Linked DNA regions of Homo sapiens. The protein of the gene in region 1 interacts with the protein of each later gene in a pairwise test. Each region holds a gene or a part of one and is shown in the gene's direction. Other genes may lie near its edges.

Evidence for each region. The genes of interacting proteins can lie anywhere in the genome.
Region 2: the proteins of ARMCX1 (region 1) and ZBTB8A interact in binary tests that used the Homo sapiens proteins (3 or more experiments, as listed by UniProt).

The regions. Positions count from the first base shown.
Region 1 is NC_000023.11:101,546,223-101,553,568, forward strand, and holds the start of ARMCX1 (armadillo repeat-containing X-linked protein 1), read left to right. Parts: upstream 1-4,324; 5' UTR 4,325-4,438; intron 4,439-4,748; 5' UTR 4,749-4,802; intron 4,803-5,346; 5' UTR 5,347-5,411; intron 5,412-6,586; 5' UTR 6,587-6,708; coding exon 6,709-7,346. UniProt on the Homo sapiens protein: Regulates mitochondrial transport during axon regeneration. Increases the proportion of motile mitochondria by recruiting stationary mitochondria into the motile pool. Enhances mitochondria movement and neurite growth in both adult axons and embryonic neurons.
Region 2 is NC_000001.11:32,542,401-32,549,426, forward strand, and holds part of ZBTB8A (zinc finger and BTB domain-containing protein 8A), read left to right. Parts: intron 1-7,026. UniProt on the Homo sapiens protein: May be involved in transcriptional regulation.

The DNA.
Region 1 (7,346 bases):
AGGGATAGTATTGGGAGATATACCTAATGCTAGTTGACGAGTTAGTGGGTGCAGCGCACCAGCATGGCACATGTATACATATGTAACTAACCTGCACAATGTGCACATGTACCTTAAAACTTAAAGTATAATAATAATAAAAAAAGGAGATATACCTAATGTAAATGACGAGTTAATAGGTGCAGCACACCAACATGGCGCATGTATACATATGTAACAAACCTGCACGTTGTGCACATGTACCCTAGAACTTAAAGTATAATAAAAAAAAGAAAAAAAGTTGGTAAATTTTGTACTGTAAATATAAAAAATTCTATATAGAAGTCCAAAAAATTATAAATCGGGAAAATATTTATAACACTTATTGAAGTCAAAAGACTCATTTGCTTAATTTGCAGAAAGTTCTTATGTATTAGTAAGAAACAGATGAACAACTTAGTAAAAAAATGAGGAAAGACAGTACACAGAAAGATAAATACAGATGCTTAACAAACCTCTAAGAAGATGTTTAATCTCACTTATAATTAAATAAATTAATTATTTGGAGCACAACATAGAATGCATATATATATATCTATCTATCGATCGACCTATATATATATATAAATTTAAGAGGTGAAAGTTGGCAGCATGGGTAAAATTTAAAATGAACACCCATTTTGACACAATTATTTTACTTTTAGGAATTTATCTTGAGGAAATAATATCATAGTTGCCAAAATATATATAGACAGAAGTCTTCACTGTGGCATCTTTGTAATAGATAAAGATTAGGAAGAGGCTAAGTATCCATCAGTAAAAGATTGGTTAAATTCTGGTAAATCCACGCTTCAGAATATTAGTGTGTCTGCTAAAAAGATTCACATGATATATCAGGTGAAAAAAATAGTTATGCAGAATAATATGCATAGTATAATCCCAAATTATTTTAGAAAGATATATGTGTACACACACACATAATGTATCTACATATATTTTTTAGTAATATATGTGAAACAACAACAAAACCTGGAAAGAGTCACCTGAAAAATTAACAGTGGTTTTCATAGGATTTATCCTAGGATTGAAGTAGATTGGTTATCACAGTAGTTATCAGAGGGGTGGGGAAGTTGAGATTTTTTATTTTCTGTTCCCCTCTTTTCCTAGTTACCACCTGCTTTTCTTCATCTCAGCTGAAAACTTCACTCTCTCTGCCCCAGCAAGGAAACTTTCCCTGATCCTCAGACTATGCCCCTTTTTTAAAAACGATATTAACAGAGGTTTTTTCCTTTACAGTATTTTTCTCTCTCTCTGTGTGTGTGTGTGTGTGTGTGTGTGTGTGTGTGTGTGTGTGTGTATGCGCTCATTTTATTAAGGTCTTATTTCCACCACGAGAGAAGAGTCTGTGTTGTTTTTGCTCACCAATACATTCCCCATAAGCTCAGCACTTGTGGCCGCTCTCCCTATTTCCTCTCCTTCCCAGTATTATGATATGGACAATTTAATTTTCCTCAGTCTTATATAAAGGGTTATAAAAGTGCACCTTTAGGCATCCCCCAAATCATCCATACACAGATGAAGAAGAACACATGAAAAACAAACAGCAAATGTCAGGTTGCACTAAACAATGAAATACTAAGGACACTCCCATTTTCTTCAAGAATAAGATCTGGAGGCCCTCAATCACCATTATCATTCAAACTAGTTCTGCAGGTTCTGGTCAATGGAATACATGCAGAAAATAAAAGAATAAAGAATATAAATACTGGAAAAGAAGAAATGAAAAATCATCATTTGCAGATATTATGCATGCATACCTGGAAAAACCAAAAGTATCGATGAAAAAACTATTAGAAATAATAAGAATGGTCACTAAAGATAAATATATCATAATTAATTACTTTACCTGAGACAAACAATAACCAGGTAGAATGTGTAATCATAATGGGAATGTCATTCATATAAACAAAACACAAACATAATAAGAAATGAGTATAAAGAAACATCACATTTATTGAAAATCTCAAAAGTTGGCATGGATAGAAAGACTCCATTTTTAAAGATGTAAATTCTCCAATTAAAGTGCAGATTTATTGCAAGTACTGCAGTAAATGTCAATTGTTTTGTTTTGCATATTGTTCAACTTGGAACTTGACACATCCACATACATATACTGTATATTTGCAGGAAGAAAGGTCGATATCATTGAAAGTGCTTGGTGGTAGAATAGGCATTGCAGGGCAGTTTTGCATTCTACTCTACAGATTTCTGCACTTAAAAAAATAAGTATATAACTAGAGACAGAGAAGAGGGGAGAGGAATAGACTTTCTTTTTCTTTTTCTTTTTTTTTTTGAGATGGAGTCTTGCTCTGTTGCCCAGGCTGGAGTGCAATGGCACAATCTCAACTCACTGCAACCTATGCCTCCTGGGTTCAAGCAATTCTCCTTCCTCAGCCTCCCAAGTAGCTGGGACTACAGGTTCGTGCCACCATTCCCGGCTAATTTTTGTATTTTTAATAAAGATGGCGTTTTACCATGCTGGCCAGGCTGGTCTCGAACTCCTGACCTCAAGTGATCTGCCAGCTTCAGCCTCCCACAGTGCTGGGAAGGAGTAGATTTTCTATTGAGGGGATATATAGCTTTTTTTCAGGAAAGTATTAATAGTTCTTAGTTATTTTTTAAAAGTCATACATGCCTGTGAGAATCTGATGAAAGCTATGGCTCCTTTCTCCACGAAAATGAATATACGTATGACCACAATTGCAGGTGGTCCACAAGGTTGTCCGTGTGAGAATGCCTACTCTGGGTTAATCCATGGGGATTGTTCCTTAGGCATACATTTGGCTGAGCGGGCACCAAGGTGGATATGGACTGGCAGGCAGTAACTCTGCAACAAGATTAGGTTCTCTTTTTAAGGAAGCCAGAGGCAAGAAGCCCAGCGGGCTGCACCTCTCAGGTCAGGTGGTGGCAGCACACAGTATTAGGAGCAATGCTCACTCAGGCACCATGAATAAGGGCAGAGGGGTAGGTAGGAACAGAAAGCCCTTCGATGCATTGCTGTTACCTCTGTGGGAATTTGGGGAAGGAAGGGAAGGAGCCAAAGGTATTTACTCTGATTGGTCACCTGAGTAAACGTGGCATTTACCACCTTGGTCACTCATCTATATATATTTTTGGAGTGAACAATAGATGGGTGCCTGAATACAGGGGATGAGAGGCTATGGAATGTGGAAGGGTGGGAGGGCAGCACCTTCTTCCGCTCTTGACAGGGCAGGAAGGATTAGAACATCGCTGCATCCCTCACACCCTCAGGTGCCTCAGCCTTGGTAGACTGGAATTCAATTCAGAGGCAGGTGATCAGAGTAGCCATCAAATCACAAGAGGTTCATATAACAGTCGGTCAAGACTTTGGGACGTTAAATACATGCTTTTCTTTAATTTAATAAGACAGGGTTGTGTTGCTTTAACTTATCAAATTGCAAGTTGATTCAAAAATAGAAAAAGTAAGGAATTATTTGTGTAAAATGGCCAAGATTAGACAACTGGTCGTCTCTTTGTGGAGTAATTCATAGATCATGTAAAAAAAATCCATTTTTTTTAAGAGATAGAGGCTTGCTCTCTGTCACCCAGGCTGGAGTGCAGTGGTGACATCATAGCTCACTGCAGCCTTAAACTCCTGGGCTCCAGCAATCCACCCACCTCAGCCCACTTTTCAATTTTAAAATGAGTTATTTTGTTTTAAAAGCTACTAATTGGCTGTAACCAGTAGAAATATTTTCCTACTGTTACAAATAAAATAACGAAATTAATGAGGCCTTTTGGGTTTTCTCTCCCGTTTAAACTCTCCACTCAAAGGAAAATAGCATCATTTTATTTTCTCAATATAAAAGTAATGCGTTACTGATTTAAAAACAAATGAGCAGAAAAGTTTAAATAAGACACTCCCACGATCTATCTCCTTTTCTAACATCTTGCTCCACATTTTACAGGGGTGCAGAAGAAATAGGACATTCATGACTTGTGATGGGGGGAGGTATAGAGAGAGACAGTTGGACTGGGACTAGAGAAGATAAAAAATTATTCCTCGAAGAGGAAGAAAAGGCCAACGGACACGGGAGCAGATACAGCCTCTCCCTGTAAACCAAAGAAAGGCAAATTCACCACAAAGAGAAGCTACTTCTAGTCTCCGGGGTTGGCAAAGAGGAAAATGAGTGACAGGACCTGATGTGTCAGGGAAGGAAGGGGAGGGCCGGCTTCTGCGGCGCTGCTGATGGGAGTGGTAATTGGGGTCCTGATCTCATGGTTGACGTGGCCCTCACGTGAGCTGGAGCCGACGCGTGCAGACGTCCTTCTAATCCTAGTCTTCGTTTGGTCCGGTTGCACTCTTCCTATAGCCCAGAGGGCGAGAGGGCCTGTGGCCTGGGGGAAGGAGGACGAGGTTCTGCCTGGATCCCAGCAGGTTTGTGTGTGGATGGGCGTTGCCAGGGGATCCCTGCGGCGCGGGCAGTGAACCGTGGAGGCCGAAGGGGGAGCACAGTTCACTTTCTCCAAACCCTTGCAGTATCCCTTGCCCTTTCTAGAACAAAAATGGTAGACCTTGGGGCCGGATTCCAGGGGCGACCCCAGACTCGGGCGTCGTGGGACCTTTAACATCCAGGGCCTTGAATCAGGGAGGGCGGATATTCGGATTCATGTCCTGTGTGCTGGCCCATCTACCAAGCCAGAATCTTGGGGCTGTGCGTCTGACAGTCATACCCCTTTTCTTTCAGTAGGACGCTGTGCCATTTGGGAACAAAGGAATAGTCTGCCTGGAATCCCTGCAGGTCAGTGTAAAGCTGGAGCTGTCCCGCGGCGCCCAGAAGGACTGGGATGACTGAGGTCCTTGCCTTAACTTGGGCCCTTTACCGACTCTCAAGCAATCTTCCTGCCATTTTTTTTTTCTTCAGTAAAAGAGGATGTAACAGTGGCTGCAGGAAAAGTGCTTGTGATTGCGGGTAGGGTGCGTTGGGGAGAGGAATAGAAGAGATCGGTTGGTTTTGTTTTTCTCCTCGGATTTTCCATATCCCCCCTCGCCCCGCCCCGCTTCCAGTGGTTTGAAAGGGGTGTGGTTTTGCTGGGAAAATGGCCGACCGCTGGGGCTGCGGGAGGGAGTGAGGGCCGGGGGCGGGGACGGGGGTAGGGGAACACTACCAAGCGACAGGGCTGGTGTCAGCGGAGTCCAGAGAAGTGAGGGTAGGGTGAGAAACAAAAAGGTAAAATCCATTGACAGCCAGGACCCTGAATTAGGAGAAGTGGATATTGGGACTCCCCGAAGTGCTTTTCTGTCCGCTGAGCCTTCAGTTTCTGCCTTGTTGCCTGTGTCTGCAGATCTTGGGGCCGGAGGCCAGTCCAACCCTTGGAGCAGGAAGAAACGCAAAGTTGTCAAGAACCAAGTAGGTCATAATAAGGGTGATGGCATTATTTGGGGGTGGAGCATGGTGGCGACTGCAACTCGAATGGGCCCGTGGACCCCTTCCATATCCCCCTCCTTCCCTCTTATCTACACCATTTCGGAGCTTGCAAAAGAAATTGTTCTGCAAGTACAAGACAGGGAAGAAAATAGCTGAGAAGGGGTGGGCGTCAAGAGAGTCCAGGGGTTGGGAGGACGTTACTCCAAATTACTGTTTGGGGTACAGGGTCCTTGGTGTTGGTCCGTCGACCAAGCACTCACTTCTGAAGTTTGTCAGTCTTGAAGGTTTAGTGGAAGCGGAAACCGAGGTGAGGGAGGTAAGAAATTGCTCCGGAGCAGAGGTAGTTGGTATAATGACACGGGGTGGGGGGGGGGGGCGGCGGTGTCCTGGTACATTTGAGATGGAGGAGTTGGCGGAGGCAAGGGCGGAGTTGGAGACCTTTAGGCATTTCACGCCAGTACGGCTTTTAGATATTCTCACTTCATTTTGTTACAAGGAAAATGTTAACGATGAAAATGTGTGGCGACATCTTCGGAGGATGCCAATGATGGGAGTAGGGGTGGAGGTGGAATGGAGGGTTAGAGGAATCATCGAAGGAGGAAGAGGGAGGGAGATAATGAATTCCAAAGCCGCAGCTCTGTGAGGAGAGGAGGGTAACCGAAGGCGGGAAACATTGGGCAAGGCAGTTGTAAAGGGCTAGGAATTCAGAAGAGGGATGTGTGCCCCGTCCCGGGTGAGATCTATATGTACCCAGAGCTCTCAGTACCCCTCTCCCCGCGCCCTTGGTCTGCAGGTTTGCACGAAGCAGTGCACTTGGAAGCAAGAAAGAGAAGGAAAAAAAACTGCCTGGACCTCTGTGGGTGCATGTGAGGGCGCCACTGTTCACAGGACATCTGGAAGGGCAGGGGTGGCAGGGAACTTTAACGTTCTAGGGTGGGGTGGTGGAACGTGAGGTTGGAGAGTCTTTAAGCGGGGAAAATTTCCAAACTTAGCTTCCGGGTGGAAGAAAGGAATCAGTGATCTAGATATCAAGCCCCGAGTCTCTGCCAGTATCTCTGTATTTTTGTACGTTTGTTTGTTTTGTTGTTGTTTCAGTCTGTTTGCGTTCAAAGACACAAAAAGGAGCCTGAAATCTGAAATGCATCCTTTATTCCTAGGTCGAGCTGCCTCAGAGCCGGCCCGCAGTAGCTGCAGACTCCGCCCGCGACGTGTGCGCGCTTCTCTGGGCCAGAGCGAGCCTGTTTTGTGCTCGGGTTAAGAGATTTGTCCCAGCTATACCATGGGCCGCACTCGGGAAGCTGGCTGCGTGGCCGCTGGTGTGGTTATCGGGGCTGGTGCCTGCTACTGTGTATACAGACTGGCTTGGGGAAGAGACGAGAACGAGAAAATCTGGGACGAAGACGAGGAGTCTACGGACACCTCAGAGATTGGGGTTGAGACTGTGAAAGGAGCTAAAACTAACGCTGGGGCAGGGTCTGGGGCCAAACTTCAGGGTGATTCAGAGGTCAAGCCTGAGGTGAGTTTGGGACTCGAGGATTGTCCGGGTGTAAAAGAGAAGGCCCATTCAGGATCCCACAGCGGAGGTGGCCTAGAGGCCAAGGCCAAGGCCCTTTTCAACACGCTGAAGGAACAGGCAAGTGCAAAGGCAGGCAAAGGGGCTAGGGTGGGTACCATCTCTGGGAACAGGACCCTTGCACCGAGTTTACCCTGCCCAGGAGGCAGGGGTGGAGGCTGCCACCCCACCAGGAGTGGATCTAGGGCCGGGGGCAGGGCAAGTGGAAAATCCAAGGGAAAGGCCCGAAGTAAGAGCACCAGGGCTCCAGCTACAACATGGCCTGTCCGGAGAGGCAAGTTCAACTTTCCTTATAAAATTGATGATATTCTGAGTGCTCCCGACCTCCAAAAGGTCCTCAACAT
Region 2 (7,026 bases), on another chromosome or scaffold:
CCATCTTCTTTACTAAAAATACAAAAATTAGCACACAGTGGCAGGCACCTGTAATCACAACTACTCGGGAGGCTGAAGCAGGAGAATCACTTGAACCTGGGAGGCAGAGGTTGCAGTAAACCGAGATTGCGCCACTGCACTCTAGCCTGGGCGACAGAGCAAGACTCCGTCTCAAAAAAAGAGAGTTGATCTTCTCAACGACAACCTTAGTTCAAGTTACACTCGCTACTTAAATCTTCAGTCTACTCATAGAAATACATGTCATTGGCTTCTATTCCAAAGACTTTCGAACTTAATGGTTCCTAAAATGTGTAATTGTCTTTCCCAACCACCTTTTTAAAGATCATTGAACTTGATGGAAATCTTGAATTCTGTTATATTCTTGGGACTATTATAATATTTAACTCTTACAGATATTTAAAATGTTTCCATTTGGATTTTGGATGTCCCATATAAATTGATCTAACTTGCTGTTTCAACGTATAAAGTCACTCTACTGAAAGAAGAAAATCTGAAATGCATTACCGATTTCCATGACCTAATCACATAATTCTGAAAATAACTTAAACCTTTTTTGATGACTCAAGAGTACTACTATGAATGCATGTTATGTTAAAATCCTTTCAATGTGAATATCAGGTTGTAACTGACCCCAGTGTATAGGACAATTCCTATTTTTTTTTTAGATATAACTTTTTTTGAGACGGAGTTTCACTCTTGTTGCCCAGGCTGGAGTGCAATGGTGTGATCTGGGCTCACTGCAACCTCCGCCTCCCAGGGTCAAGCAATTCTCCTACCTCAGCCTCTCAAGCAGCTGGGATTACAGGCACCTGCCACCATGCCCGGCTAATTTTTTGTATTTTTAGTAGAGACGGGGTTTCACCATGTTGGTCAGGCTGGTCTCAAACTCCTGACCTCAGGTGATCCACCCGCCTCAGCTTCCCAAAGTGCTGGGATTACAGGTGTGAGCCACTGCGCCTGGCCTGAGATATAACTCTTACGCCATAAAATTTACCCATTTTAAAGTGTACAATTCAGTTTTTTGATATGGTCACAAAATTGTGCAACCATCATGACCCTCTTAACTCCAGAACATTTTCATCATTTGCATAAAGAAACCCCATGCCTGTTAACAGTCACTCCTATTCCCATGTCTCCCTAGCTCCTGATAACCCCTCATCTACTTCCTATGTGGATCTACCCATTCTGGGCATTTCATGTGAATAAAATCATAAATAAAATATGTATTTTTTATGACTAGTTTCTGTAACTTAGCATCAGGTTTTTTGTTTTTTAGACAAAGTCTCGTTCTGTCACCCAGGCTGGAGTGCAATGGCGCGATCTCGGCTCACTGCAAGCTCCGCCTCCTGGGTTCACGCCATTCTCCTGCCTCAGCCTCCCGAGTAGCTGGGATTACAGGCACCTGCCACCATGCCCGGCTAATTTTTTGTATTTTTAGTAGAGACAGGGTTTCACCGTGTTCGCCAGGATGGTCTCGGTCTCCTGACCTCATGATCCGCCCGCCTCGGCCTCCCAAGGTGCTGGGATTACAGGCATGAGCCACCACACCCAGACTTGTTTGTTTTTTAGAGACAGGATCTCACTGTCACCCATACTGGATTGTGGTGGCGTAATCCTGGCTCACTACATCCTTGACCTCCTGGGCTCAACCAGTCCTCTGCCTCAGTCTCCCAAGTAGCTGGGACTACAGGCTCACGCCACCGTTCCCAGCCAGCATGAGGTTTTTAAGGTTCACCCATGTTGTAGTATATACAGTCATATGTCACTTAATGATGGGGATATGTTCTGAGAAATGTGTTGTTAGGTGATTTTTGTTGTTGTGTGAACATCATAGAATGTACTTACACAAACCTGGCTGATATAGCCTACTACACGCCTAGGCTGTATGGTATAGCCTATGGCTCCTAGGCTACAATCCTGTATAGCATAATACTATAGGCATTTGTAAAACAATGGTAAGTATTTGTGTATCTAAACATATCTAAACACAGGAAAGCTGGGCACAGTGGCTCACGCCTGTAATCCCAGCACTTTGGGAGCCCAAGGTGGGTGGATCACCGAGGTCAGGAGTTCAAGACAAGCCTGGCCAACATGGCAAAACCCCGTCTCCACTAAAAGTACAAAAATTAGCCAGGCATGGCGGTGGGTGCCTGTAATCCCGGCTACTCAGGAGGCTGAGGCAGGAGAACTGCTTTAACCCAGGAGGCGAAGGTTGCAGTGACCTGAGATGGTGCTACTGCACTCCAGCCTGGGGGATAGAGCAAGACTTTGTCTACAAAAATAAATAAACAAATAAATAAACACAGGAAAGGTACAATAAAAATATGGTATTATAATCTTATGGGACCACCGTCGTATATGTAGTCAGTTGTTGACCAAAATGTTATGCGGCGCGTGACCATATCAGTACTTCATTCTTTTTATGGCCGAGTTACATTCCATTGTATGGGTATACCACATTTTGTTTACCCACCTGTCCGTCAGTGGACATTTGGATTGTTTCCACCTCTTAGCTGTTGCAAATAATGCTATTATAAACATTCGTGTATCAGTTTCTGTGTAGACGTATGTGTTCATTACTCTTGAATATATACCTAGGAGTGAAATTGCTGGGTCATATGATAACTCCATGTTTAATCATTTGAGGAACTCCCAGACTGTTTTCCAAAGTCGCTGTACCATTTTATATTTCCACCAGCAGTGTGTGAAGGTTCTTACTTATCTATACTCTGGCCAACACTTAGTATTTTCATGTTTTTTAAAAAATTATTATATCTCTGGAAAAACATGGAAAAAAAAGAAAATATAGAAAAAGAAGAAGAAAAAAATTTTAAAAAATTATTGTAGCAAACTATCCTAGTGGGTGTGAGGTAGTATCTCATTGTGATTTTGATTTGCATTTCTCTAATGATTAATGATGCTAAACATCTCTTCATGTGCTTATTTCTATTTGTCTTATTTAATCTTATTTATTTTAGCGATTATCTTATTTAATCCTCTTAACAGACTTCCTTAGAGCCTCTAAACAGTCAATAACCTCATTTTACAAAAAGGAAACGAATGCTTAGAGTTAAGTAACTTGACAAAGTCACACAGCTAATGATTGGTAGACCTATAATCCTGTGTTTCTTCTTTTTAAAATCCTTCAGAAGTGCCTCAGAACCCCCAAAACTGGAGGGGCTTCCAAGATCTAGCTCTTACATACTTTTCTAGTTTCATCTTCTGCCATCCTTCTGTAGGCCCACAGTCTCTAGCTATAGCAAACTTCTTACCATCCCCTAGGAGGCCATGCTGTTTAATACGCTGTTTTTGCCTTCCCATTTGGTGCTCTCTCTGGCTAGAACGCCTTTTGCCCTCTTTCTCATGTATAAACTTCTTTTCATCCTTCAAGACCCAACCTAAACGTTGAGCCTTTTGGAAATGTTTCTCAATACTACCAGGTACAATCATTTGCTTTCTTTGTTTTACAGTTCCCTTCTACTATGAGTATTTTCTTCATTGTATTGTCACTTTGTCTAGAAGTCTCTTCTCTTCCTGTCTCTTCTCTGACTCTCTCTCTCTCCTACTAGACAGTGAGCTGCTTGAAAGTGAGCACTGACCTTTGACATTTCATCACCTCTATATTCTCAGGACCAGGTATAGTCTGGTATAGAGTAGTTGCTCAATAAATATGTCTTGAATAAAATGCGTTTCACCTGCCAATTTGAGTATCTGCCCTTCTCATAAAAATAGAGTAAAAGGGCCACATACAGTGGCTCACACGTGTAATCCCAGCACTTTGGGAGGCCAAGGCGGGCAGATCACTTGAGGCCAGGAGTTTGAGACCAGCCTGGCCAACATGGCGAAACCCTGTCTCTGTTAAAAATATAATAATTAGCCAGGTGTGGTGGTGCGTGCCTGTAATCCCAGCTACTCAGGAGGCTGAGGCATGAGAATCACTTGAACCCAGGAGTGGCAGGTTGCAGTGAGCCAAGATCATGCCACTGCACTCCAGCCTGGGTAACAGAGTGAGACTCTGTCTCAAAAAAAAAAATAAATAAATAAATAAAAGATTTTTCTGTTAAAATATAGAAAGAGCCAGACATGGTGGTACACTGTTATAGTCCCACCTATGTGGGAGACTGAAGCAGGATCACTTGAGCCCCGGAGGCCAAGGCTGCAGTGAGCCAAGATCGTACCACTGCACTCCAGGCTGGTGGGACCTTGTCTCAAGAATTTAAAAAAGGAAAATATACTTCTGTGGAGTTCAGAACAATGTAAAATTAATGATTGTATCAAAAGATGAAGTTGTTTTCTTTCGGCTGTTTTTCTGACCCTTCAGAAAACCTCCATTGCTTTGAATCCTGTGGCTCTCAGCAGCATGTGAAACACGGAGGGCATAGCGGATGCCTTATATCACCTTCAGTTCCCTCTGTCTCCCTGGCGCTGTTGGACTAGGTCCAACATAAAATTCTTACAGTTCCAGAATATCTGGGGGAAGTTTTTTGTTTTTGTTTTTGAGACAGGGTCTTGCCCTGTTGCCCAGGCTGGAGTGCAGTGGCACAATCACAGCTCACTGCAGCCTCAGCCTCTCAGGCTCAAGTGATCCTCCCACCTCAGCCTACTGAGTAGCTGGGACCACAGGCATATACTACCACACACCTGGCTAATTTTTTAATTATTTGTAGAGATGAGGTCTCGCCATGTTGCCCAGGCTGGTCTCGAACTCCTGGGCTCAAGTGATCCTCCTGCCTGGGCCTTCCAAAGTGCTAGGATTATAGATATGAGCTACCATGCCCGGCTGGGGGAAGTTTTATTCCAAAATCTGCAATGTATTTTTCATCACCAGAAGATACCTCAGCAAACCAAACTAAGCCATAATTTTATCCATGACTTTTTAAATATATACATTAGAGTAGTATTCTAAGTATAAACAAATTTTCTTTTCTTTCTTTTTTTTTTTTTTTAGTAGAGATGGAGTCTTGCCCTGTTGCCCAGGCTAGAGTGCAGTGGCATGAGCATTGCTCACTGCAGCCTCGAACTCCTGGGCTCAAGGGATCTTCCCTCCTGCCTTAGCCTCCTGAGTAGCTGGGACTACAGGTTCGAGCCACTGTACTCAGCAACATTAAAACATAAACTTTTAGGTTGCAAATCTTATTTTAGGTTATAGATCTCATTCTCAGGCCACTGCACTCCAGCCTGAGTGACAGAGCAAGTCTGTATCTCAAAAAAAAAAAAAAAAAGAAAGAAAAAAAGGCAAAAATGGTTTCTCAAGAATAATTTGGCACACACTTGTATTCAGAAGGCTGAGGTGGGAGGATCACCTGAGCCCGGGGAGGTCAAGGCTGCAGTGAGCTGTGATCTCACCACTGCACTCCAGCCTGAGCAACAGAGAAAGATTCTGTCTAAAACAAAAAACAAACAAAGCAAAAAAAAAAAAAAAAAAAAAAAGACCAGGCGCAGTGGCTCACACTTGTAATCCCAGCACTTTGGGAGGCCGAGGCAGGTGGATCATGAGGTCAGGAGTTCGAGACCAGCCTGGTCAAAACAGTGAAACCCCCATCTCTACTAAAAATGCAAGAATTAGCTGGGCATGGTGGCCGGCACCTGTAATCCCAGCTACTTAGGAGGCTGAGACAGTAGAATCACTTGAACCCGGGAGGTAGAGGTTGCAGTGAGCCGAGATTGCACCACTGCACTCCAGCTTGGGCGACAGAGCTAGACTCCGTCTCAAATTAAAAAAAAAAAAAAAAAAAAAAAAAGAATAATCCTTCCTTAAGGTGAGGTCTGCAATTGACTAGTTGGAGTCGAGGGTTGCTATTCCCAGGTACACATGTAGTTTTGAAATGATCGCTCTCACTCTCTCTAGGTACATGAATATGATGAAACCAGTCAAAAAACATTTTTTTTTTCTGTATCCACATTTTTTGTTTTTGTTTTTGTTTTTGTTTTGAGACAGAGTCTCACTCAGCCGCCCAGGCTGGAGTGGAGTGGTGCAATCTCGGCTCACTGCAACCACCGTCTCCAGGGTTCAAGCGATTCTCCCGTCTCAGCCTCCTAAGTAGCTGGGATTACAGGCACCCGCCATCATGCCCGGCTAATTTTTGTATTTTAGTAGAGATGGGGTTTTGCCATGTTGGCCAGGCTGGTCTTGAACTCCTGACCTCAGGTGATAAACCCGCCTCAGCTTCCCAAAGTGCTAGGATTACAGGCGTGAGCCTCCTTTCTGTATCCCCATTTGTATAAGACAAGAAAATGTGTGGCAATAAAACTCTAAAATGTTTACATTTTGTACTCATTGAAAGCAGTGTTTTTAAATGTTTAGATAATTAATAATAATAATAATAGCTGACATTTATCAAGGGCTTGTTATAAGCCAGGCACTGTTATAAGCACGTTTCTTGGATTAGCTTCTAATATTCTCCATCTCGCAGCTCTGTAAGCTATAGGTATTATTATTGTCCCTGTATTAGTCCATGCTCTCATTGATAAAAAGAAATACCTGGCCGGGGCCAGGCACCGTGGCTCATGCCTGTAATCCCAGCACTTTGGGAGGCTGAGGCAGGCCGATCATGAGGTCAGGAGTTTGAGACCAGCCTAGCCAATATGGTGAAACTTCATCTCTACTGAAAATACAAAAATTAGCCGGGTATGGTGGCCCGCACCTGTAGTCCTAGCTACTCCAGAGGCAGAGACAGAATCGCTTGAACCCGGGAGGCAGAGGTTGCCATGAGCCGAGATCACGTCACTGCACTGCAACCTGGAGGGCAGAGTCAGACTCTGTCTCAAAACAAAACAAAACAAAACACCTCGCTGGGTGCTGTGGCTCATGCCTGTAATCCCAGCACTTTGGGAGGCCGAGGCGGGCGGATCACCTGAGGTCAGTAGTTCGAGACCAGCCTGGTCAACATGGTGAAACCCTGTCTCTACTAAAAATATAAAAATTAGCCACGCATGGTGGGATGTTCCTGTAATCCCGGCTACTTGGGGGGCTGAGGCAGGAGAATCGCTTGAACCCAAGAGGTA